Homo sapiens: one gene and its partners. The protein of the gene in region 4 interacts with the protein of the main gene of each other region in a pairwise test. Each region holds a gene or a part of one and is shown on either strand. Other genes may lie near its edges. The genes, in order: HMG20B, SPATC1L, CCDC102B and SYCE1.

Region 1 (7,852 bases), on a different chromosome or scaffold from region 4:
GGTCATTTTTGCTTACAATTGAAACTCTGGGAATTCAAAATTAACATCCTTGCCCATGAGCTTCTTATAGACACCAGAAAAAGTTTCAACCTTGTGTTCCATATTGTTCTGCTGTGCCTTGTCCAAATGAACCTTTATGAGCCGGCTGCCATCTAGTTTCACGCAGATTCTCTAGAGTTTCAACTGTAAGCAAAAATGACTAAATAAAAAATATATATTCACGTTAAAAAAATTTTTTTTTTTTTTTTGAGACGGAGTCTCGCTCTGTCCCAGGCTGGAGTGCCGTGGCGGGATCTCCGCTCACTGCAACCTTTGCCTCCCGTGTTCAAGCTATTCTCCTACCTCAGCCTCCCAAGTAGCTGGGATTACAGGTGCCCGCCACCACGCCCGGCTAATTTTTGTATTTTTAGTAGAGATGGGGTTTCACCATGTTGACCAGGCTGGTCTCGAACTGTGGACCTCGTGATCCTCCCACCTCAGCCTCCCAAAGTGCTGGGATTACAGGTGTGAGCCACCGTGCCTGGCAATTTTTGTGTTTTTAGTAGGGACAGGGTTTCTCCATGTTGGCCAGGCTGGTGTCAAATTCCTGACCTCCAGCGATCCACCCACCTCGGCCTCCCACAGTGCTGGCATTACAGGCGTGAGCCACCGCGCCCAGCCCACGTCTTTATTAGGAATACGCACATGTGTACGTGTGTAGGCATGTGCTGTGGGTGGAGTCATGTCCCCACAGAATGCACAGGTTCCTGTCCTAATCCCCAAGGCCTCAGAATGTGACCGTATTTGGAAAAAGGTCATTGCAGATATAATGAGTTAAGATGACATCATTAGGGTGGGCCGTGACGCAGTATGACTGCTGTCCTTATCAAAAGAGGAAATTTGGGTGCAGACACGCACATAGGGAGAACCCCACATGAAGATGCAGGCAGACATCGGGGTGTCACTCCTACAAGACAAGAAAAGCCCAGGATTGCTGGCCAATGCCAGAAACTGGGAGACGCCAGGGACAGATTCTCTCCCCGCCCTCAGAAGGCCCCAGCCCTACCCACACCTTCCTCTTGGACTTCTGGCCTCCAGAACTGTGAAACAATAAATTTCTCTTGTTTAAGCCCCTCAGTTTGTCGTAATTATTACCTAGCAAACCAATGCAGTGTGGTGTGCGTGTGTGTGTGTGTGTGTGTGTGTGTGTGTGTGAGTGTGGCTAGGAAAAATTTTAAAAAGAGATGCGGCCGGGTACAGTGGCTCACGCCTGTAATCTCAGCACTTTGGGAGGCCAAGGTGGGCGGATCATCTGAGGTCAGGAGTTCAAGACCTGCCTGGCCAACATGGCAAAACCCCGTCTCTACTAAAAATACAAACATTAGCTGGGTTTGGTGGCACGTGCCTGTAATCCCGGCTACTCAGGAGGCTGAGGCAGGAGAATCACTTGAACCTGGGAGGCGGAGGTTGCAGTGAGCAAAGATCACGCCACTGCACTCCAGCCTGGGCGAATGAAACTCTATCTCAAAAAAAAAAAAAAGAAAAAAAAAAGGCCTGGCACAGTGGCTCACGACTGTAATCCCAGCACTTTGGGAGGCCAAGGCGGGTGGATCACAATGTCAGGAGATCGAGACCATCCTGGCTAACACGGTGAAACCCCATCTCTACTAAAAAATACAAAAAAATTAGCCGGGCGTGGCAGCGTGTACCTGTAGTCCCAGCTACTTGGGAGGCTGAGGCAGGAGAATGGTGTAAACCCGGGAGGTGAAGCTTGCAGTGAGCCGAGATCGCGCCACTGCACACTAGCCTGGACGACAGAGCGAGACTCTGTCTCAAAAAAAAAAAAAAAAAAAAAAAAAAAGCAATAAGCTGACGATAGGAAATGTAATGAAATTAAAGAGGTCTGAGCTGCACTTCCTTAATTCTGTACAAGTGAAATGGATGTGAACATGATTTGCATAATAAAAATTAATTAGAAAACCAAAGAATTATAAGGCAAGTCATCCTTAATGGAGAGCTTCCACCTCTAGGATTATAAATTGGTATACTGTTCCTGGCTTCATGCTATAAAAACTGGCAAATAAATCATAGTAATAAATGACAAAAAACAAACAAAAAGGCCGGGCGCAGTGGCCCACCCCTGCAATCTAGCACCTTGGGAGGCCGAGACGGGCGGCCACCTGAGGTCAGGAGTTCAAGACCAGCCTAGCCAACATGGTGAAACCCTGTCTCTACTAAAAAAAAAAAAAAAAAAAAAATTAGCCGAGCGTGGTGGCGGATGTCTGTAATCCTAGCTACTTGGGAGGCTGAGGCAGGAGAATCGTTTGAACCCGGGAAGCAGAGGTTGCAGTGAGCCGAGATGGTGCCACTGCACTCCAGCCTGGGCGGCAGAGCAAGACTCCATCTCAAAAAAATAAAATAAAATAAAATAAAATAAATAAACAAAATAAAATAAATGTTCAATTAAATTGTTATTGACTATGGCCGGGAGGGGTGGCTCCACACCCAGCCTCACCTAGACTATTTTTAAGTGAGCAGAGAGACACAGGGGAGGCCTGGGAGGTCAGAGAGCTGATTAAGCAACAGAGCCAGGTCTGGCGTGTGGAACCGTCCAGATTCCAGGGCCAGCTCCTCTTCCTCAGCCCCGGGCTGCATCTTAGGACAATGGGCTTATTGAGACTTAACTCACATATAATGCACCCATTTAGAGCATACAATTCCATGGTTTGTAATATATTTCCAGAGTCACGCAGCCATCACTGAAATCAAATTGTAAAATACTTTCATCACCCAAATGAAAACCGCATCCCTCTCAGTGGTCATTCCCCACCCACTGGCACCCACACGTCCCCCTCCTGTCTCTGTGGATGGGCCTTTCCTGAACATTCTGATCACACACTGTGTGACCTTTGTGTCTGGCGTCTCTCACTGAGTGTGATGTCTTCTAGGTACATCCATGCTGTGACTTGTGTCAGAGACTCGCTCCTTTTTTTTATGGCTGATAATATTCTTTTTTTTTTTTTTTGAGACGTAGTCTTGCTCTGTTGCCCAGGCTGGAGTGCAGTGGCACAATCTTGGCTCACTGCAACCTCTGCCTCCCAGTTCATGGGATCCTCCTGCCTCAGCCTCCCATGTAGCTGGGATTACAGGCGTGCACCACCACGCCTGGCTAGTTTTTGTATTTTTAATAGAACTGGAGTTTCACCATGTTGGCCAGGCTGGTCTCGAACTCCTGACCTCAAGTGATCCGCCTGCCTCCCAAAGTGCTGGGATTACAGGCGTGAGCCACTGCGCCCGGCCCATGGCGGATAATATTCTGTTGTAAGGATATATCCCGTCATCGATCCATGCATCATTAGCAGACGTTTGAGTTGTTTTCACTTTTTGGCTATTATGAATCACGCTGCTACCGACGCTTGTGTACACGCTTTTGTTTGAACACCTGTTTTCAGTTGTCTGGAGTATATTCCTAGGAGTGAACTGCTGAATTGCATGGTGATTCCACATTTATTTAACCCTTTGAGGAAATGCCAGTCTGTTTTCCAAAGCAGCTGCATCTGCCTCCTAGACATCTGAAGGATTCAATGAATGTGTATTGAGCATCCACCATGGGCAATGCTGTGAACCAAACAGGCAGGCCACAGGGAGAAGCCGACTTATGGAGGCAAAAAAAAAATCAGAGAAGGCCTGGCTGAGCAAGTGACATTTAAGCGGACTTGAGGAAGAGGAAGTGGGCCGGGCGTGGGGGCTCACGTCTGTAATCCCACCACTTTGGGAGGCCGAGGCGGGTGGATCACGAGGTCAGGAGTTCAAGACCAGCCTGGCCAAGATGGTGAAACCCTGTCTCTACTAAAAATACAAAAATTAGCCGGGCGTGGTGGCAGGCGCGTGTAATCCCAGCTACTCGGGAGGGTGAGGCAGAGAATTGCTTGAACCCGGGAGGCAGAGGTTGCAGTGAGCCGAGATCCAGCCACTGCACTCCACCCTGGACGACAGGGTGAGACTCCGTCTCAAAAACAAAAGAGGAGGTGAGCAGCCCCAACTTGGGCCAGAAGCCTAGACTGCTGCTGGGAGGTCCCTGATCCACCAGAGCGGAGCCTCCTGACCCATCCTCACGAAGTCCTTGCCATCTCCCTTCACCACCATCTTTCCCCAAACACTTCCAGCCCAGCTCCCAACCCCACCCCCTGCCTGACCCACACCCAGTTCTCAGCTTCCCAGCATCCCAGTCTCTCTGTCCTGGATATCGTGTGATGTCCCCGTTGCACAGGGGGGAAAGCCGAGACCCCAGAGGGAGAGCAGCCCCTATGGCCAGAAGCCCTCGGATCCGGACGTCGGGGGCTCTAAACTGAGTAAATACATAGGAAACTTCTCCGCTAGGTTTTGCAGGATGTTAAGAACAGGTCCCACCTTGCCTAGGGCTGGGGACTGCCTCGCAGGACCTTAACCCTAGCAACCCACCTCCGTCCCCATGGCAACCGGGGCGGGGCCCGACCCGGATCCGCCGGTCGCCCCATCCGGCAGCGGCTGGGAGTCTTGCCTTCAGAGAGGGAGGAGGAGTCCGCGCCTCTCCTACTGGCCCTTTAAGAGGCTCCGCCCGGCAAGTCCGCCACTCGCTCCCGATTGGTCCCGAGCGCGGCCGAGCGCAGCCGAACTTGACGCACCGCCCGCAGCCTTCCTTACCAACCTCCCACGCGACTCAGCAACCTCCCCAACCAATCGCCGGCCGGCGCGCCGATCGGTATCTGCATGGGCTCGCCCGGGGGGAAGGTCTCACCCAATGGGACCGTTCGCCGAGGCCTTCATTAGCATGCCGGGGGCGGGGAGGGGCGGGGCGGCCGACGGGGGCGGGCTGCGGGCGGTTGGTTGGAGCGTCGCGCAGTCGGGAGGTCCGGGAAAGTTTCTTTGGAGGTGAAAACAGCCGCGGAACTCCGGGCCCTGAGAGGGGGCGGGGGTGCAGGGGTCCCAGGGCCGGGCCGGGGTCTTTCCTGGCCCGGGGGAAACCGGCCCAGGCCTCCCGGGGGGGGCAATCGCCCAACAAAGGATTCTTGGGGCGCCCGCCCTCGAGGACTTCCCTGCCCCTGGATCCGGCCCCCCCAGCGCTCCGGGCCCGGCATCCCGGGGCTCTCCATCGCGGGGTACCCCAGTTCGCGGTCTGCCATCGGGCAGCCCGGGCGCTACTCACCTCCGCCCGCGTCCGTGTTCCAGGTCCGGCCCGGAGCGGCCATGTCCCACGGCCCCAAGCAGCCCGGCGCGGCCGCCGCGTGAGTGCACTGATCCCCTCCCCACGCCCTCGCTACTTTCCCGGCTGCAGCCCTAGCTCCTGAACCCCTGACCCAGTCCCTCCCGCCGGAGTCTTGACTCCCCCACCTGGGTCAGGGGGCTTCTCCCTCCACCCAATTCTGCACCCCCCACCTCGGCCTCCAGTCCCTCCCAGGAGCCCCGCTTGTCCCACCTTCCCCGGATACTGACCCCATCAGACCCTGCCTCCTCGGGCTCATGCACTCTCGCTGCAGCCCCGCCGTCGGGGGTCAAAACGCCCTGGGGTGGGCTTTTGGGGGAGGGGAGATTCTTGGGACGGGGCTGACCGCGGTATCCTTGGCTCCAGGCCGGCGGGCGGCAAGGCTCCGGGCCAGCATGGGGGCTTCGTGGTGACTGTCAAGCAAGAGCGCGGCGAGGGTCCACGCGCGGGCGAGAAGGGGTCCCACGAGGAGGAGGTGAGAGTCCCTGCGCTGAGCTGGGGGAGGCCCCGGGCTCCCGCCCCAGCCTCGAAGCCCCGCCCCAGGCTGGATTTGAATTGCTTGTGGCTCCGCCCACAGCCCATTTTCCTCTGGAAGCTGAGACCCCGCCCCGTGCCAGCTGCCACGCCCCTGACAGGTCCTCTGCCACTCTAAGTCCAGGCCCCGCCCACCGCACAATGCCAGCTCTGCCCACTCTAAGGTCCCGCCCACTTCCACTCCTTGGGGGCGGCACCCTCCCCTTGGTCCTGTGGGCCCGTTCTCCAGCAGAAAACCACGCCCACCAAGCAGAGGCCACGCCCACAACCGAAGTCAACGCCAACCCTGTACTCAAACCTCGGCCCATAGTTCCTCAGATCCCCTCACCCCTGGCCAGGGATCCCTCTAACCCACCGTGTCCCGACTGCTGACCGGGCCCTACCTCCATCTTTTCCGGGTTCTTCCTCCCAGCTAGGCCCCGCCCCCATCCCCGCCCATACGCGTTAGGCCCCGCCCATGCCCCTCTGAGCCCTGCCCCAGTACGCCAGGCCCCCCTCCCAACGACGCAGCCCGGTTCTGCAGCCGGTGAAGAAACGCGGCTGGCCCAAGGGCAAGAAGCGGAAGAAGATTCTGCCGAATGGGCCCAAGGCACCGGTCACGGGCTACGTGCGCTTCCTGAACGAGCGGCGCGAGCAGATCCGCACGCGCCACCCGGATCTGCCCTTTCCCGAGATCACCAAGATGCTGGGCGCCGAGTGGAGCAAGCTGCAGCCAACGGAAAAGCAGGTGGGCGGGGCGGGGCGCCGAGCAGGGCTGGCGGGGTCCACGGACTACCCCCCAGTAGCCCCGACCCCCAAAGGATTCCACGTGCAGGGTTTTTCCTTCTTCCTGGAGAAATGCCCACCCATAACCAACTTTTTTTTTTTTTTTTTTTGTGAGATGGAGTCTTGCTCTGTTGCCCAGGCTGGAGTGCAGTGGCGTGATCTCAGCTCACTGCAACCTCCGCCTCCCGGCTTCAAGCAATTCTCCTGTCTCAGCCTCTCAGGTAGCTGGGATTACAGGCGCGTGCTACCATGCCCTGCTAATTTTTGTATTTTTAGTAGAAATGGGGTTTCGCCATGTTGGCCAGGCTGGTCTCGAACTCTTGACCTCAAATGATCCGCCCACCTCAGCCTCCCAAAGTATTGATATTAAAGGCGTTAGCCACCGTGGCCAGCCCATGACCAGCTTTTGGGGGCGCGGCTAGCAAGAGGCAAGACAGATTGAAAACTGGATGACCAACAAAGATATGTCTAAGAAGTCAGGATGGGGCCTGGATTTTTTGCGAAACCCGATTTTCATATCCTGTTAGTTTAAAAATTGCAAAAACATCACGGAAATGTAACAAAAGCCATCACTGCTTTGCATCCCTGTAAGTGAGATTTCAAAGAGAGAAACGGGTGCGGGAGGGAGTCCAGGCATCCGCATACGCTGGAGGTTGGGTTCCTGCCCATGACTCTGGCGTCCGGGAGTGGTTTGTCAGGGCTGGAGGTGGGGAAGAGTCCGGGGCATGGGAAGTGAGGTGGGAGCTCGGAGGTCCCTGAGCAACAGGCTGAGGAGCCGGTTCTGTCTGCCTGGAGGGAATAGGGAGCTATAGAAGGTTCAGGAGAGGGGAGGGTGCTGTGAAAGCAGAGTGATAAAGACTGGATCCTGGCGTTGGAGGCTTCCCCTGCTTCAAGCCTTCTGGTGCTGCCCCCCAGCGGTACCTGGATGAGGCCGAGAGAGAGAAGCAGCAGTACATGAAGGAGCTGCGGGCGTACCAGCAGTCTGAAGCCTATAAGATGTGCACGGAGAAGATCCAGGAGAAGAAGATCAAGAAAGGTGGGAGGGGTCGGGCGCGGTGGCTCACGCCTGTCATCCCAGCACTTTGGGAGGCCGAGGCGGGTGTATCACCTGAGGTCAGACCAGCCTGGCCAACATAGTGAAACCCTCCCCCTCTACTAAAAATACAAAAATTACCTGGGCGTGGTGGCGGGTGCCTGTAATCCCAGCTACTCGGGAGGCTGAGGCAGGAGAATTGCTTGAACCCGGGAGGTGGAGGTTGCAGTGAGCCAAGATTGCGCCATTGCACTCTAGCCAGGGCGACAGGGCGAGACTCCGTCTCAAAAAAAAAAAAA
Region 2 (7,036 bases), on a different chromosome or scaffold from region 4:
CAAGCCTGAGAGCGAGCGTGTCTGGAAGCAAAGAGGGGAATCCATGGCATCGTCCCCACACCTTTGGTCTCTGGTGACAGGCAGGGGCTCCTCGCAGGGAGCTGGGAGGAGAGCACCTCGCCAGGATGTGCGGGGACAGTGTGGCTGGGGAACCTGGCGCCTGGGGGCCATGCTGTGCGAGGCCCCAGGTTCTGCGTCTCCATCAGCGGCCACTGAGCCCCACGCTCACCACAGGGCGTTTGCTGGGCAGACCTGCGCTTACGGTGCTGGGCCACGTGCAGGGTCCCGTTCACAGCACTTGTGAGGCCCGGGCACTGTGGCTGCAAAAGGGCCCTTAATCTGTTTGGCGTGTGTGGACCGCCGCAGGCTGCGTGCCCCGGGCTGCGTTGCTGTCCTCCTCCTCAAGAAGGAATCACCCTGGGCCGGACCTCAGGGCTGGACAGAGTGCTGGTGCCTCCCCTGGCAGGAGAGGGGCAGACCCTCAACCCTTGCCCAGGCTGTGCAGTCCCCAGAGGGACCCTTGTCAGGGGCTGAGTCCGGGCGGGGTCTCCATGACCACGGCTGCTGCCCCTGCCCTTGGGTCATCTTGGCAAACCCAGGTCTTGCTGGACACGGGTCTTGGGAGGAGCCTCAACCTGAGGCCAGCAGGCCTTCCACAGAGGGCCTTGGAGCCCCCGCCACAGGGTGTGGGGCAGGCTCAGTGTGGCCCGGGCTGGCAGCGGGGAGGGGCCTGGACAAGACCACCCTCTAAACTCTGCCACTTGAGTGGCAGCGTGTGGTGCACCCTTAATGCTCTGGGCCTCAGCATGTGCTTGGGAATGTACCTGGGGCTGTGGGACGCTGCATTCAGGACCAGCCCTCAGCAGAACTGGGGTTGGGAAGACCAGCACTGAGCTTCTGCAAAAAAGGAGAAGTTTATAAACAAAGGAACCACCACCAGCAATGTCTGCATGTTGCCAAGACTTCATTAGCATCTGTGTTCAAAACAGGATGAGTAAAAACCTGCTTTTCTTACGGATTCAACAACACGTGCTCATGGTAAACTTATAAACGCCATGGAGGGTGCAACGTTTAAGCCTCAGGCCACGCCTCCGGCCCCCTCCGCAAAGGCAGCCACAATCAACGTTCTCTTGGGTTTTCTCTGGAACTTTAGTGGAGATCTGTGTGTCTGTCTGTGTATCTTTTTGGTCCACCTACACGGGATTGTGCTGTTCCGCAACTTGACTTTTCCCCCTTAACGATCCATTTCGCGGCATTCCCCACCAGTCCTTATCTGCAGATCTCCCCGGCACACTTGAACACTGGGCTCCTTCTGTGGGGGCCCCAGGCAGGCAGCACTGTTCCCAGTTCTCTGCGACCGTGGACGCCGCCGCCGTGGGTGGCCTGCGCAGGCGCCCTGTGGCTTTGTGTAGGGGATCCCACACCTGGGTCCTCGGGTCAAAGGCTGTGTGCATTTGAAATGTTGAAACAGACACTGTCAAACGCTCTCTGAACGGTCCCTACACCCCACTGATGGAGGAGGAGGGCACTGCGCCGGCATCGTTCCCACGTCACAGGAGGGCTCATCTGTCCCCGTCAGCTGGGGAGCGAGGTCTCCAGGTCTTCTCACCCAGGTTTACAAGTGAGTGACGCGAAGGGCCAGTGGGAGCAGCAGTCCTCTGCCTCCCCTCCCAGCTGCCCCATCTCGTCTCCCTCGGGATTGTCCTGGTCCCTCCAGCACGGCCACGATGCCACTCGCCGTGTCTCCACTGGAGAGGTGTCCCCTGGAGGACAGCCAGGCCCCCCCAGATTGCCCACTCGCTCCCTAGTTGTTGGTGGTGGATTGTCAGATGATTTCCAACAGTGGTGAGAATTCTCTATGTGCAACTCCTGGTCACTCCTTCCGTCTGACATGACAGAAGATTGTCCCTGTGTTGTTAGGTGTACTTTAAAATGGCCCTGCAATATTGCCGATTCGGATGAACCACAATGTAATGAATTCTCCCTCAGTTTGAAATTAAAGTTTTTCTTCCCCTTGAGGTAAATAGCACCACAAAAAAGGTTTTAAGAATTTTTATATTTAAGGTTATTTCCATTGGATTTCTTTTTTTGGTGTGTGTGTGATTTTTTTTACTTTTATGGAGATGGGATCTTCTATGTTGCTGGTCTTGAACTCCTGGGCTTAAGGGATCCTTCTGTCTCGACCTCCTAAAATGCTGGGATTACAGGTGTGAGCCACCGTGCCTGGCCCATTATGTTTTTTTCTTTTTCAGACAGGGTCTATGTTCCCCAGGCTGGAGTGCAGTGGCAATGATCATGACTCACTGCAGCCTCGACCTCTGGGGCTCAAGCAATCCTCCTACCTCAGCCTCCTGAGTAGCTTGGACTACAGTGCTTGCCACCATGAGCGGCTAGTTAAAAATTTTTTTTTTTTTTTTGTAGAGACAGGGTCTCCCTATGTTGCCCAGGCCAGTCCCAAACTCCTGGGCTCAAGCAATTCTCCCACCTTGGCCTCCCAAACCATTGGGATTACAGGCTTGAGCCACTGTCCAGCTGGATTTATTTTTAAAAAATAGAATCATTGATTCAGAAGGCAGGAGTAAATGGTTTTTTGTTTGTTTGTTTTTGAGACACAGTCTGGCTCTGTTGCCCAGGCTGGAGTGCAGTGGTGTCATCTTGGTTCACTGCAACCTCTGCCTCCTGGGTTCAAGCGATTCTCCTGCCTTGCCCTCCCCAGTAGCTGGAATTAAAGGCACACACCACCATGCCTGGCTACTTTTTGTATTTTTAGTAGAGATGGGGTTTTGCCATGTTGGCTAGGCTGATCTTGGACTCCTGATCTCAGGTGATCCACCCACCTCGGCCTCCCAAAGTGCTGGGATTACAGGCATGAACCACTGCACCTGGCCATGTATTTCTTTTTTAAAAAACTTTTAAGTTCAGGGGTACAAGTGCAGGCTTATTACATAGGTGAACTTGTGTCATGGGAGTTTGTTGTACAGATTATTTTGTCACTCAAGTATTAAGCCTAGTACATTCGTTATTATTCCTGATCCTCTCCCTTCTCTCACCCTTCACCATCTGGTAGGTCTCAGTGTCTGTTGTTCCCCTCTATGTGTCCACGTGTTCTCGTTGTTTAGCTCCCACTTATAAGTAAGAGCATGTGGCATTTGGTTTTCTGTTCCTGCATTAGTTTGCTGAGGACAATAGCCTCCAGCTCCATCCATGTTCATGCAAAGGATATGATCTCATTCTGGTTTTTTTTTTTTTTTTTTTTTTTTGAGATGGAGTTTCACTCTTGTTGCCCAGGCTGGAGTGCAATGGCACGATCTCGGCTCGCTGCAACCTCCGCTTCCCGATTTCAAGCAATTCTCCTGCCTCAGCCTCCCAAGTAGCTGGGATTACAGGCATGCACCACCATGCCCAGCTAATTTTGTATTTTTAGTAGAGATGGTTTTCACCATGTTGGTCAGGCTGGTCTCGAACTCCTGACCTCAGGTAATCCACCTGCCTTGGCCTCCCAAAGTACTGGGATTACAGGCATGAGCCACTGCTCCCGGCTGATCTCTTTCTTTTTTATGGCTGCATAATATTCCATGGTGTCTATGTACAACATTTTCTTTATCCAATCTACCACTGATGGGCATTTAAGTTGATTCCGTGTCTTTGCTATTGTGAATAGTCTGCAGTGAACATATGCGTGCATGTGTCTCTATAATAAAATGATTTATATTCCTTTGGGTACCATTAATGGAACCCAACCAGTAATGGAATTGCTGGGTTGAATGGTATTTCTGTTTTTAGGTCTTCGAGGAATCGCCACACTGTCTTCCACAATGGCTGAACTAATTTATGCTCCCACTAACAGTGTATAGGCGTTCTTTTTCTCTGCAACGTTGCCAGCATCTGTTGTTTTTTGACTTGTTAATTATAGCCATTCTGACTGGTGTGAGATGGTGTCTCATTGTGGTTTTTATTTACATTTCTTTAATAAGCAGTGATGTTGAGCCTTTTTTCATATGCTCGTTGGCTGTATGTATGTCTTTAGAAAAGTGTTCATGTCCTTTGCCCACTTTTTAATGGGGTTGTTTGTTTTTTTCTTGTAGATTTCTTTAAGTTCCTTATAGATGCTGAATATTAGACCTTTGTCAGATGCATTAGTTTGTAAAAATTTTCTCCCATTCTGTAGGTTTGCTGTTTACTCTGTTGATAGTTTATTTTGCTGTGCAGAAGCTCTTTGATTAGATGCCATTAGTCAATTTTTGCTTTTGTTGCAATTGCTTTTAGCATCTTTGTTGTGAAATCTTTGCCCATCCCTATGTTCTGAATGGTATTGCCTAGGTTGTCTTCCAGGGTTTTTATAGTTTTGAGTTTTACATCTAAGTCTATAATCCATATTGAGTTGATTTTTGTATATGGTGTAAGGAAAGGGTCCAATTTCAGTCTTCTGCATATGGCTAGCCAGTTATCCCAGCACCATTTATTTAATAGGGAGTCCTTTCCTCATTGCTTGTTTTTGTCAGATTTGTTGAAGATCAGGTGGTTATAGGTGTGCAAACTTATTTCTGGGTTCTCTGTTCCGTTCTATTGATCTATGTACCGTGCTGTTTTGGTTATTGTAGCTCTGTAGTATAGTTTGAAGTTGGGTAGTGTGATGCCTCCAGCTTTGTTATTTTTGCTTAGGATTGCCTTGGCTATTCGGGCTCTTTTTTGGTTCCATATGAATTTTTAAACAGTTTTTTTCTAGTTCTGTGATTAATCTCAATGGTATTTTAATAAGAACAGCATTGACTCTATAAAATTACTTTGGTCAGTATGACCATTTTTATGATATTGATTCTTCCTATGCATGAACATGGAATGTTTTCCCATTTGTGTAATCTCTGATTTCTTTGAGCAGTGTTTTGTAGTTCTCCTTGTAGACATCCTCCACCTCCCTAGTTAGCTGTATTCCTAGGCATTTTATTCTTTTTGTGGCAGTTGTAAATGGGAGTTCATTCCATTTGATTTGGCTCTTGTCTTGATTGTTGTTGGTATATAGGAATGTTAGTGTTTTTTGCACATTCATTTTGTATCCTGAGACTTTGCTGAAGTTGTTTATCAGCTTAAGAATCTAGGTTGAGACTATGGGATTTTCTAGATATAAGATCATGTCATCTGCAAACAGGGATAGTTTGATTTCCTCTCTTTCTATTTGGATGGGCTTTATTTCTTTCTTTGGCCTGATTGCTCTGATCAAGACTTCCAATACTATGTTGAATAGGAGTGGTGAGAGAGGGCATTCTTGTCTTGTGCCAAGTTTTGAGGGGTTGAGTTTTGATGTTGGTTGTGAGTTTGTCATACATAGCTCTTACTATTTTGAGGTATGTTCCTTCAATACCTAGTTTATTGAGCGTTTTTAACATGAAGGGGTGTTGAATTTTGTTGAAAGCTTTTTTTGCATCTATTAAGATAATCATATGGTTTTTGCTTTAGTCCTGTTTATGTAATGAATCGCATTTATTGATTTATGTTGAACCTACCTTGCATCCCAGGGATAAAACCTATTTGATTGTGGTGGATAAGCTTTTTGATGTGCTGCTGGATTTGGTTTGCCAGAATTTTGTTGAGGATTTTTGCGTCAATGTTCATCAAATATATTGGCCTGAAGTTATCTTTTTTTGTTGCATCTCTGCCGGGTTTTGTTATCAGGATGATGCTGGCCTCATAGAATGAGTTAGGGAGGAGACTCTCCTCCTCAACTTTTTGGAATAGTTTCACCAGGAATGGTACCAGCTCTTCTTTGTACATCTGGTACAATTCAGCTGTGAATCCATCTGGTCCTGGCTTTTTTTGGTTGGTAGGCTATTTATTACTGACTCAATTTTAGAGCTTGTTATTGGTGTGTTCAGGGATTCCATTTATTCCTAGTTCAGTCTTGGGAGGGTGTATGTGTCCAGGAACTTATCCATTTTTTCTAGATTTTCTAGTTTATGTGTATAGAGGTTTTCATAATATTTTCTGATGGTTGGTTGTATTTTTGCGGGGTCAGTAGTAATATATCCCTTATTTCTGATTGTGTTTATTTGAATCTTTTCTCTTTTCTTCTTTATTAGTCTAGCTAGTGGTATATCTATTTTATTAATTTTTTCAAAAAACCAGCTCCTGGATTCATTGATGTTTTGAATAGTATTTTGTGTCTCAATCTCCTTCAGTTCAGCTTTGATTTTGGTTATTTCTTGTTTTCTGCTAGCTTTGGGATTTGTTTGCTCTTAATTCTCTAGTTCTTTTAGCTGTGATGTTAGGTTGTTTGACTGAGATCTTTCCAACTTTTTGATGTGAACATTTAATGCTATAAATTTCCCTCTTAACACTGCCCTAGCTGTGTCCCAGAGATTCTGGTATGTTGTATTTTTGTTCTCATCAGCTTCAAGGAATTTCTTGATTTCTGCCTTAATTTCACTGTTTACCCAAAAGTCATTCAGGGGCGGGTTATTCAATTTCCATGTAATTGTGTGGTTCTGAGTGAATTTTTTAGGCTTGATTTCTAACTGGGTCCGTTGTCGTCTGAGAGATTGTTTGTTATAATTCCAGTTGTTTTGCATTTGCTGAGGAGTATTTTACTTCCAATTATGTGATTGAATTTAGAGTGTGTGCCATGTGGCAATGAGAAGAATGTATATTCTATTGTTTTGGGGTGGAGAGTTCTGTAGATATCTGTCAGGTACATTTGATCCGGTGCTGAGTTCATGTCCTGAATATCTTTTTTAATTTTCTGTCTCAATTATCTGTAATACTGTCAGTATGGTGTTGAAGTCTCTCACTATTATTATGTGGGAGTCTAAGCCTCTTTGAAGGTCTCTGAGAACTTGCTTTATAAATCTTGGTGCTCTTGTGTTGGGTGCATATATATTTAGTGTAGTTAGGTCTGCTTGTTAAATTGAGCCCTTCACCATTGTGTAATGCTCTTCTTTGTCTTTTTTGATCTTCATTGGTTTAAAATCTGTTTTGTCAGAAACTATGATTGCAACCCTGCAATCATAGTTTTCCATTTGCTTGGTAGATTTTTCTCCATGCC
Region 3 (2,646 bases), on a different chromosome or scaffold from region 4:
CCCAGTATATATGAATGTTCAGAGCATCACAGGGCTGGAGACAATATAAATACTCATGGAAAGGAGGGTAGGTATATATGTCATGGCATAGTAATGCAGTGCTATAATAGAGAGGACAAAGAGACCACAGATGAAACATTACTGTAGATGAGTCTTAGCTGTTGGATTTAAAAAGCAAGAATATTACATATAGCATGAAATACCTTTTTTAATTAAAACAATTAAAATGATACATTTTCAATAATATATATAAATATATTTCACATATATATATATATACACTTAGCATATGTATATGTGAATATGTATACATACACGTGTATTTTGTTCAAAGCCATGGGAATAAAAAACACAAGTTATAGTTCAGTGACTTATAGCTAGGGGAGGCAAGAGGGGAAATGGGAGAAGAGTGGCTACATAGAAAGGATTTTGTCAAATATTTCAGAGATCATTTTGAGGTTTATTACTGAATATGTACATTAACTCTATTAAAATAAATGAATATTTTCATTTATTCATGCACATATACAAAAGAAACTCACACATACACTACTGGTAAGTTACTGTCATACAAACATATACCTTGTTTTTAAAGAGTTACTTTATTTCAACTACTTTTTTTTTTCATTAAGAGCTTTTCTTATTAAGATGGAGATAGAAAGCTGTGTCTTATATAGAATGGATCCTCATGTTTTTCAATTTAAATTTTATTTTTAAATTGACAAGTAAAATTTGTACATATTTATGATATACAACATGATGTTTTTCTAAATGTGTACATTGTAGACTAGCTAATCAAGCTACTTAATATATGTACTATTTCAAATACTTATAGTTTTGTGGTGAGAATACTTACAATCTATTCTCTTAGCAATTTTTAAGAATATGATAAGATGTTATTTACTATAGCCACCATGATGTACTATAGAACACTTGAACCTAACTAAAGCATTTTCTACTTCGCTTTCAGCTTGATGATTCCCTGAATCAGATCCGTAAGCTCCAGAGGTCTCTGGATGAAGAGAAAGAAAGAAATGAAAACTTAGAGACTGAACTCAGGCACTTGCAAAACTGGTAATTTTTTCACAAAATATGCTGAATTAAAGATTAGGGCCTTAAAGACATTTCCATATCCTTTTCTTAAATATCAGTAAAATTGTTTTTATTAACTAGAAATATTAATGAAAAAAACGTAGACAATACACAAATTAATGGGCTTCTTCACTTCTTCTAATTTTTGCCTAACAGATACTGCATATTCTCAAAAAGACAATTTAAATGTCATTTAAAAACAACTTTAATTCTAAGATGTGTAAATATTTTGAAAGTCAAAAAGGGCTTTCAGAATACTTTTTACATAAAATCTGAAAGAGTTATAATATCGGTAAGAAAAAGTAAGTTGAAAACCATACAAGACGCTGGGTCATTAATAAGAAAACCATTGACTTTAAGTATAAAGTACTGGTTTGTTTAAATAATTGGTAAACTTTTATGTACGTGTTGTCTATGTGGTGGGGATGGCAGGTTGTATTAACAAAAATGAATCATTCTAGAGGTGTAACAATACATTTCTTATATAATTTTATAAGTCATTTCTAATCTTTGTATAAAACAGAAGTGAGCAGATGAATCAGAAAAAAGTGTTTTGTATTTTAAAGTAACAGATAACCAGTGATTGAATCTAAGACAGGCTGTAAGCATCGCTGAGAAACTAAAAGGACTTTTGACTTTTATCTGGATAGACATTTCTACAGTAAAATCATGGAAAGGCATCAGCATTGCAAAGTAGCATCTAGGTAGAAATCAGGCCAAAATTAAGCTGTGGTTTCCCTCTGAGTAGTGGGAATAGAGAAAATTAGGAAATTGTGGTTATGTGAATATTTCTTTAAAACTTTTATGTACATTATAGTTTATTGCTTCATATTTAAGTTTAGTTTTTAAGGTAAAATGTTATTTTGAACAAAAAGACACTTATAATTTTCCATACCTATTTTCAACTGAAGGCAACTTGTAAGATTTAACTCAGTCAATAACATACTGGTTTTACTCATCTCCCCCTCCATTGATTAGCCAAAAAAAAATGAAATCTTACTAATTCATTATTGAATAAAGACCACTTTTATCAGAGTCTCTCATTGTAAAAGCCTTTGTCATTCACTGAGTCTTCACTTTTTCCCTGTTTCTCTCCCAAACATGGGGGATTGTATGACTAATAGGAACGCAGCACTGAGGGGCAAAGAGGCCCGATCTTCAAGTGCGCACTGGTGTGTGTTTGCTAGGCTGTGTAGTAATGAAATCTATCTTGTCGCTGGGTACTCTTGCTGGGTTCTGATGCTTAAATGTGAACTTCCTTCTCTTTGCTTAACACTCCTCCTGTGAACTGGATCCATCTCAGTGCTTTCTGGTATGACCTCCTCTATCCCATCATATCCCCTGTCAACCAACTGACTGAGCAATTCATCCAGATGGAGCCTTGAGGATGGGCCGCAGGTCAAGGTCTCATCTCAGTCACAATCCCATATGAGAACCAAATACAGTTTGGAGAAGCTAAATATTAGGGTTCCCCTTGCCTGACCATGTTTCTCTGCTTTTCTGTGGCTGTGCCCCAAGTGGGTGTGGGGCAACTGGCAAGGCGTCTTCCTCTCA
Region 4 (7,209 bases):
CGGTGGAGAAACCGCACCTGCCACGGGAGGGGCCGCGGGGTGGGCTCGAGCCACCATGGGGCTGGTACAAGCACCCTCTCCGCTCAGGACCTCGGCCCTCATCCCAGGGCACCAGGGCTCACAGGGGGATGGGCCCGGGTGGGGACGAGGGTGTGGAGGGGCAGGAAGCACGGCGGGTGGAGCGGAGCCGGGTGCGGGGGTCGCGGGGGACCGCGGGGACGGGGCCTTGTGATGCAGGAGACGGAGGGGGCTGGTGACGGAGGACGGGAGGCCGCAAGGATGGGGGACGCGACATCCTTTTCCCCTCCCACCGGCTCACCAGGGATGCGCCTCCGCGACTGCCCGCCCCAATCCCAGGGCGGAGGCCTCGCGCAAAACCCAGGCGCCGCGGCTCCGCGCTCCGGCTGAGGGTCCGCGCCGCCGCCCGCCCGCTCCTTCCCGCTCGGCCGCGGCCTCAGGGACGGATACTCCAGCGCGCGGTTCCAACCGAGGCCCGTGGCGGGTAAGGCCGGGAGGCTGGGGCGGGTACGGGGCCGGGAGCGAGGGGCGGCGCGGGGAGGGGATGCAGCTGTCGCCCGCACAGCCGTGTCTGGACGCGGCCCCGCAACTCGACCCCGTCCCGCCCCCAGCCAGCTGCTGAACTAGGCGGCCGGGGACGGCATTGAGCGCTGGGCGCGCGCGGGAGGGACTGTCCCTGGGGCACGGGTCTGCTGGGGCGGAGTCCGCACGGTGTCAGCAGCCGCTTGTCCTCCGCAGCATCCGCAAGGCCCGCACCCAGGCTTTGGCCCCAAAGGTGGGGACCAGGCCCAGGCACGGCCCGTCCCCGTTCCAGACCCTGATCTGAGCCAGCTCTTGGTCCCGGCTACCGCGTCCTCCAAACACAACGCCCCTCCCCCCATGCCGCCTCCCCCCGCCCCCCACATCCCAGCAACGCGTGCAGAGCTCCCTCCCCCAGGCTTGCTCCCCCGCCCGGGCCTGGACGCCCCCAGAGGCCTGAACGCTCCTGCCCCGCTTCTACACCCCCAATCCAGGTGCACAACCTTCAGGTGCAGAACCCTCCTGCCCCTCCTGCCCCACCTGCCACTTCCCAGCGCCTCCCCCAGGCCTAAGTCCCTGATGCTAGAGGTTAAACCGCGCCCCCCCAGGCCTCAGTGGGCCTCCAAGATGCTGGGGGCACCCTGATCCCACAAAAGATGGGGGTCCCTCTGCTCTCCAGCCTTGAGCCCTCCGCCTCTGGGCACCCGATCTCCATGGAAACTAAGGGCCCTTTCCCTCTCTTCCCGCAGGTTTAGCCCCATGAAGATGAACTGGGCACCCGCGAATGGCTGGGCTCTGCTACAGGAGGCAGCCTTCCTCTGCGTGCGGCCGCGGAGGGCTCCGCGGGGGCTCGAGAGGGGCCTCGAGGGTGTGTGTGAGGCCGGCGCTGTGCTATGGTGCCCCGGGCTCCTCCCTGCGCGTGGCTGCGGCCGGGGCGGCGGGCTCAGGCTGGAGAAGGGCCGCGGGACCCGGGGAACGCGGCCTGGAGGACGAGGAGGACTGGGTTCCCGGAGGCAACAGGACCGGCTCGGCATCTACAGCTACTGTACGTGGACTTCGGGCGCTGGACCCACGGGCGGCCTGTGCCTCTGTGTCGGGCTGGGTGGCGCCCTCAGTGCCCTGGGGCTGCTGCGGCCCTAGGCCTGGCTGGGCTCGGTGACCACATCTGGCCCCCGGGCCGCACCGTCCCCCAGGATCCTCCGGCCTGGGCTCCCCCTTCCTCCCTTGCCCACAGTCTTGGAGCCCCAGTGGGTGCAGGAGCTGCTGGCTGCCCCTGTGGACCCGCCATCCACCGTCCTGCCCATGCTGCCTCGCCATCCACCTGCCTGCCCACGCCGCCTCAGCCTCCCACCTCCCACCTAGAGGAGACCATGGGCCCTGCCCCACCTGCTCCAGGATGTTAGGGTCCCCTCAGCCAAAAAGGCAGTGGCCTGTGGCTCCTGTACCAACAGCCCAGCCACACTCCAGAGCCGCCCAAAGGGAGGTGCCAAGGCCAGGAACCCAAGCCACCCCAGCTCCCCATGCCTGCCCAGGGGCCGTGGTAACCCATGGACAGGGAGGTGACCTCAGGCTGGTTCTGCCACTGAGGCCCTGAGGAATCAGGCCCTCCCCAAAAGAAGTAATGAAATGGACCAAAGGACTTAAGAATTTGGGGGGAAGTAAGGGGAAAACGTTAGGTGCTAACCACCTGCCCAGAAGAGTGGATCTCACAGCCCAGGAACATTCCCAAGCAGGAAAACCATCCGTCCAGGAACCCTAACCCTAAAACTAAGCACAACCCCTACCCCTAACCCCTGACCCTAACGCTGACCCTTAACCATAACCCTTAACCCTAACCACTAACGCAAAACACTAACCCTTAACCCTAACCCCTAACACCTAACCCCCACCTCAAGCACTAAACCCTAAGCCTAAACCTTAACCCTAACTGCTAACACTAACCCATAACCCTAAGCCCTAGCCCCAACCCTAAACTTGACCCTGAACCCAAGCCTCCAACCCAACCCCGACACAAACCCCTAACCCTAACCCCTAATTCTAGCCCTAATCCCTAAATCCAACACCAACCCTTGACCGGACCCCTGACCCCTAACCCTAACCTCAACTCATAACCTCAACCCCTACTCCTACACCTAACCCCTACCCTAATGCTAGCCATAAACCTAACACCCAAACCCAAACTCGAACCTATGCCTACCCCTAAAACCCTAGCCCGAACCGTAACCACAAATCCTAACACACAACGCTACCCCTAAACCTACCACTACCCCACCCCAAACCCTGACACCGAACCCTGAAGCTAACCCTAACAACACTAAGCCTAACCTGCAACCCTTAACCCAACTGTAACTCCTAATGCTAACCCTAACCCTAACCCTAACAACACTAAGCCTAACCCCTAACCCTTAACCCAACTGTAACTCCTAATGCTAACCCTAACCCTTAACTCTAACCCCTTACCCTAAACTGTAACCCCTAACCCTAATCCCAACCCCAACACGTAACCCTAACCCCTATCCCCTACCCTAAAACCCTAACCCTTACAAACCTTAGCCAAATCCCAAACCCTAACCCCCACCCCTGACCCTAATCCCCTAGCCCCCAAACCCTAACCCCAATACCCTAACCCCAACACTAAAACCCTGACCCTAACCGTAAAACCCTACCCCTACCCCGACCCTAGCCCAACCCTAACCCTACCCCAATCCTTCCCCTACCCCTAACACTAACCCCAAACCCTAATTCTAACCCCACTCCTAACCCCAAAACTAACTTCTAACCCCTAAACCCTAACCCCAACCCCAACTCTAACCTTAATCCCTAGCTCTAATCTGTAGCCCTAACCCTAAACCCTAAGGTAACCTTTTATAGGTTAGGATTCGAGGCTTCGTATTTAGGACAGGCAGGTGTTCTGATGTCTCCCACTCACCTGCACGGTAAAGTTCTTCCCCTGGCTCTTCACAACCAGTCGCGATGCATCGCGGCCTCCCCTGGCCGGTGAAGGGCTGGGTTCTCCCGAAAGCCTCTGCTCCTCCTCCCTCCTCCCAGGGCCCTCCGGGCCTCCACGGTGGCCCCAGCGCGGCAGGGACCGTGCAGAAGGGACCGTGGGCTTGTGGCCGGCCTCGGCCACTGTGGGCATGGAGCTCACGGGAACGCGGCCTAGGGGCAGGCTACGCTCCTCTGCGCGCGCAGGAACAGCGGGCCCAGCGGGGGCTGCCGCAGATTTCACTCGCTGGGGCCCGTGCACTCCCGCGGCGGTGTGGTCCCGCAGAGCCGCAACCTCATGAGGCTGCCAGGGCCACAGCGCCTTGTGGAGTCGTCATCCGTCAGACACGCACACTTCACAGGAAGCTTCGGCGCTACACATGCGTACTGCTCGTTGGTGGGGAGGGCCTCCAGAACCAGGGCCGGTCCCCTCGGAAGCCAGCGCACATGCGCGGGGGCACCCGGCAGCGGGCCAATCGCAAGCCTGGACGGCCGCACGTGGCCCTGGCGGGCTTCCCGCCGCGTTTGTAGCCCTCGCGCCTTTACGCATGCGCACTAGTGCCACGCAGGCCTGCCGGAGAATTACCTCACATCTCCAGGCGCGCGCAGGAGTGCATTGCGCAGGCGCGCTGCCTGGAGTCCTGCCCCCAGCGGCGGTTGCTCCAATCACCACTGGAGGCTCCCTCCCGAGGCACCCTCGCTGGCGAGCTGAGAGGAAATGGCGGGGAGGTCCCTGACATCGAAGGCCGAGCCCACCGCAGGAGCCGTGGACAGGGCTGAGAAGGCCGGAGGTAGTGGTGGGAGGCAGGGAACTGTGCGTGAGGGTCTGACCTCGCCGAGGCGGGGCAGGGTTGGGGCGCGGGTGGCGGCTGCTTCTTCCTGTCAGTCCTGATGCTGCTGATTGAGACTTAGCGGGTTTCTTCAGAAAAATTTCGGCCAAGATGAGGGAGTGCTTGCCCGCACACCCCCCACTTTGTCTTAAAGCATTGAACTGTTATCATAGTTGCTCCAATTTTGGTTTAGGTAATTAGTCAAAAGACATCCCTTCCCGTTGTCCCACAGACTTTACATACACACCTCTTAAAACAAAAAGGATATTTTCCTGACGCTCCCAATCCCAAGGGAATTCCTAATTCCACCTTCCTCTCCCTAGAACCAGCAAGTGTCCAGATTTCCCAGTCGCACTAAACTGGTTCTTGACAGTGGGGCCCCCCACCCAGCATCCCGACGCCCCGGGGAGCCGGGGGAGGCCGACTCCACGCAGATCCCCCGTTTGTTTCTCCCTGACCCCGACCTGCCATAGTGGCTCCTACCTCACCCTGGGAAGGGAGGGGACAGGCAGCTGGTCAGAGTTGTACAGAAGTCCAGAAATTGCAGCCCAACAAAGAGAAAGGACACTGTCCTGGCCGTTTCCACTTCAGGACACTGTGTGCCTCTGGGTGTTCTGTGAGGATTTTCAAACTTACAGAAAAGTGGAGAGAATTGTACGGTGACGTCCCTCCTGCTGTCACTCAGCTTGTCATTCTGTCCTGAGATCATCTGTCCCCCTTGAGTTAAAACTCTGCAATTAACAAACGTCGGTGGCTGCCTCCAGCCCTACCTGCGTGAATGCCATGGCAGGTGCTCTGTCATGTTCTTACAAAATGAAGGTTTGAATACTGAAACAAGCTTAGCACAGAAAGCATCCCTACAGTGAGATGTGGCACAGTGAAAGCCCCAGCGAAGGACAAAGCAAGTAAACAGGACAGACGCAAACGTATCCCTTTCATTAAGCACCTGCTGGCCCGCCGGTGTGCTAGCCTTTCAGTATCATGGCTCCATGTTCCTCACATAACCTAGTATATTTAGGTAAGTTTTAACCAATGTCGCTTGTGCCTTAGTTCAAACTGCTACAACAGAAATGCCTTATTTCTCACAGTTTTCGAGGCTAGAAGTTCAAGATCAAGGTGCAATTCAGCGTCTGGTGGGGGCCTGCTTCCTGGCTATAGACTTCTGTCTTCTCATTGTGTCCTCATGTTGGGGAAGTTGCTGCAGACCTCTCTGGTCTTATAAGGGCACTAATCCCATTGCTGAGGGCCCTACTCTCATGACCTAATCACCTCCCAAAGGCCCCACCTCCTAATGCAGTCACACTAGGGGGTTAGGATTTCAACATACGAACTATGGATGGGGGCACAAACATTCTATAGTGACCAGCTACAGAAGAAATTTAAAGGACAAGATTCCAGTTTTAGTCTATCTGTTTTAAAAAGGAAGCAGGGATGTTATCTAGGGTCAGTGACACTAGATACATTTTAGTAAAAAGTCTATTAGTCTTCACCTAACTGGCTGCAGTTATTACTAGAAAGGGGAATGACTGGGGAAAGGGAATGTTGGTGTTTCAATTTTTTCTTCATACTTTTTCACACATGCCAATTACTTGAATAATTTAAAACTTAATGCAAAAATTTATGAGCAGTAATTTGTGTAAGATTTCAGGTGGGACCAAAATGAGGGGACTCCATAAACTCAAAAATAAGCATTTCACAAAATTTTATGCTTGATTTTTTTTTTTTTTTGAGACGAGATTGTGCTTTGTTGCCCAGGCTGGAGTGCAGTGGTACAATCACTGCTCACTGCAGCCTTGACCTCCTGGCCTCAAGAGATTCTCCCACCTCAGCCTCTTGAGTAGCTGGAATCACAGGTACATGTCACCATGCCCAGATAATTTTTTTAAATTTTTTATTTGTAGAGAGAGGGTCTTGCTGCATTGCTCAGGCTGCTCTTGAACTCCTATGCTTGAGCAGTCCTCCTGCCTCAGTCTCCCAAAAGTGCTGGGATTATGGATGTGAACCACTGAGCCTGGCCTTATGCATGTATGCATGATTTTTAATGGCTGTAAATGATTTCATCCTGTGTATGTGCTATAATTTATTTAACAAATCCCCTAAGGCATATTTAGGCTTCTTCGAGTTTTTCACTATTATAAACAATACAGTGATGAACACCTTGCCCATTAGCCATATCCAGAATTACTTAGGACATAGTCTTAGAAAATAAGATGCACCCAAACTTTTGATATTTACTATCAGAAAGTTTGTAAGGAGACACCTTAATTTTGCATATCTGGTTGACAAAGATAAACACGTTTGGAAACATAGGTGATTGGTAAAAATGAAAAACTGGGCATCTTGTATACATCAGTGTAAGGTAATTTGGTATTGTCAATCAAAACTGTTACAAACTTTGGTCAGGTGCCTCTGAGCCTTCTCAACCGTGCCTCGGCCTTGGCCTTGGCCTGTGATATGGTTTGGATCTGTGTCCTCACCCAAATATGTTGAATTGTAATCCCCAATGTTGGAGTTGGGGCCTGGTGGGAGGTGGTTGGATCACAGGAGACCAATTTTATTTAGATAGTGACTACCTATCTTTTAACTGGATCTCTGAGCTCTGGGAAGAGGCCACACTGAATCCTGGGTCTGCAAAAAGGGAGAATTATTATGAGGCTCGACCACATGGATGCTTTTACAGTGTACTTAAAAAACATTAAAAAAATATTTCTAAGTGTCTAAAATATACTCTTCCTTAAAAATGCAGGAGTAGCTTCTGTTGCAATAATTAATAAACAAAAAAATCAGGTAACACAATACAAAAGCAAACAGTTTAGGAGCTGACATGAACTTGTGTGTTTACACTCTTGGGGATACA

The links.
Region 1: the proteins of SYCE1 (region 4) and HMG20B interact in binary tests that used the Homo sapiens proteins (3 or more experiments, as listed by UniProt).
Region 2: the proteins of SYCE1 (region 4) and SPATC1L interact in binary tests that used the Homo sapiens proteins (3 or more experiments, as listed by UniProt).
Region 3: the proteins of SYCE1 (region 4) and CCDC102B interact in binary tests that used the Homo sapiens proteins (3 or more experiments, as listed by UniProt).

What each region holds. Positions count from the first base shown.
Region 1 is NC_000019.10:3,568,105-3,575,956, forward strand, and holds the start of HMG20B (SWI/SNF-related matrix-associated actin-dependent regulator of chromatin subfamily E member 1-related), read left to right. Parts: upstream 1-4,839; 5' UTR 4,840-4,890; exon of another isoform or gene 4,891-5,187; 5' UTR 5,188-5,205; coding exon 5,206-5,243; exon of another isoform or gene 5,244-5,587; coding exon 5,588-5,696; exon of another isoform or gene 5,697-5,713; intron 5,714-6,278; coding exon 6,279-6,482; intron 6,483-7,435; coding exon 7,436-7,556; intron 7,557-7,852. UniProt on the Homo sapiens protein: Required for correct progression through G2 phase of the cell cycle and entry into mitosis. Required for RCOR1/CoREST mediated repression of neuronal specific gene promoters.
Region 2 is NC_000021.9:46,174,457-46,181,492, reverse strand, and holds part of SPATC1L (speriolin-like protein), read left to right. Parts: intron 1-7,036.
Region 3 is NC_000018.10:69,053,060-69,055,705, forward strand, and holds the end of CCDC102B (coiled-coil domain-containing protein 102B), read left to right. Parts: intron 1-970; coding exon 971-1,078; 3' UTR 1,079-2,130; downstream 2,131-2,646. UniProt on the Homo sapiens protein: During interphase, forms fibers at the proximal ends of centrioles to maintain centrosome cohesion. During mitosis, dissociates from the centrosome following phosphorylation to allow centrosome separation. Contributes to CROCC/rootletin filament formation.
Region 4 is NC_000010.11:133,562,561-133,569,769, reverse strand, and holds the start of SYCE1 (synaptonemal complex central element protein 1), read left to right. Parts: upstream 1-4,186; 5' UTR 4,187-4,240; coding exon 4,241-4,313; intron 4,314-7,209. UniProt on the Homo sapiens protein: Major component of the transverse central element of synaptonemal complexes (SCS), formed between homologous chromosomes during meiotic prophase. Requires SYCP1 in order to be incorporated into the central element.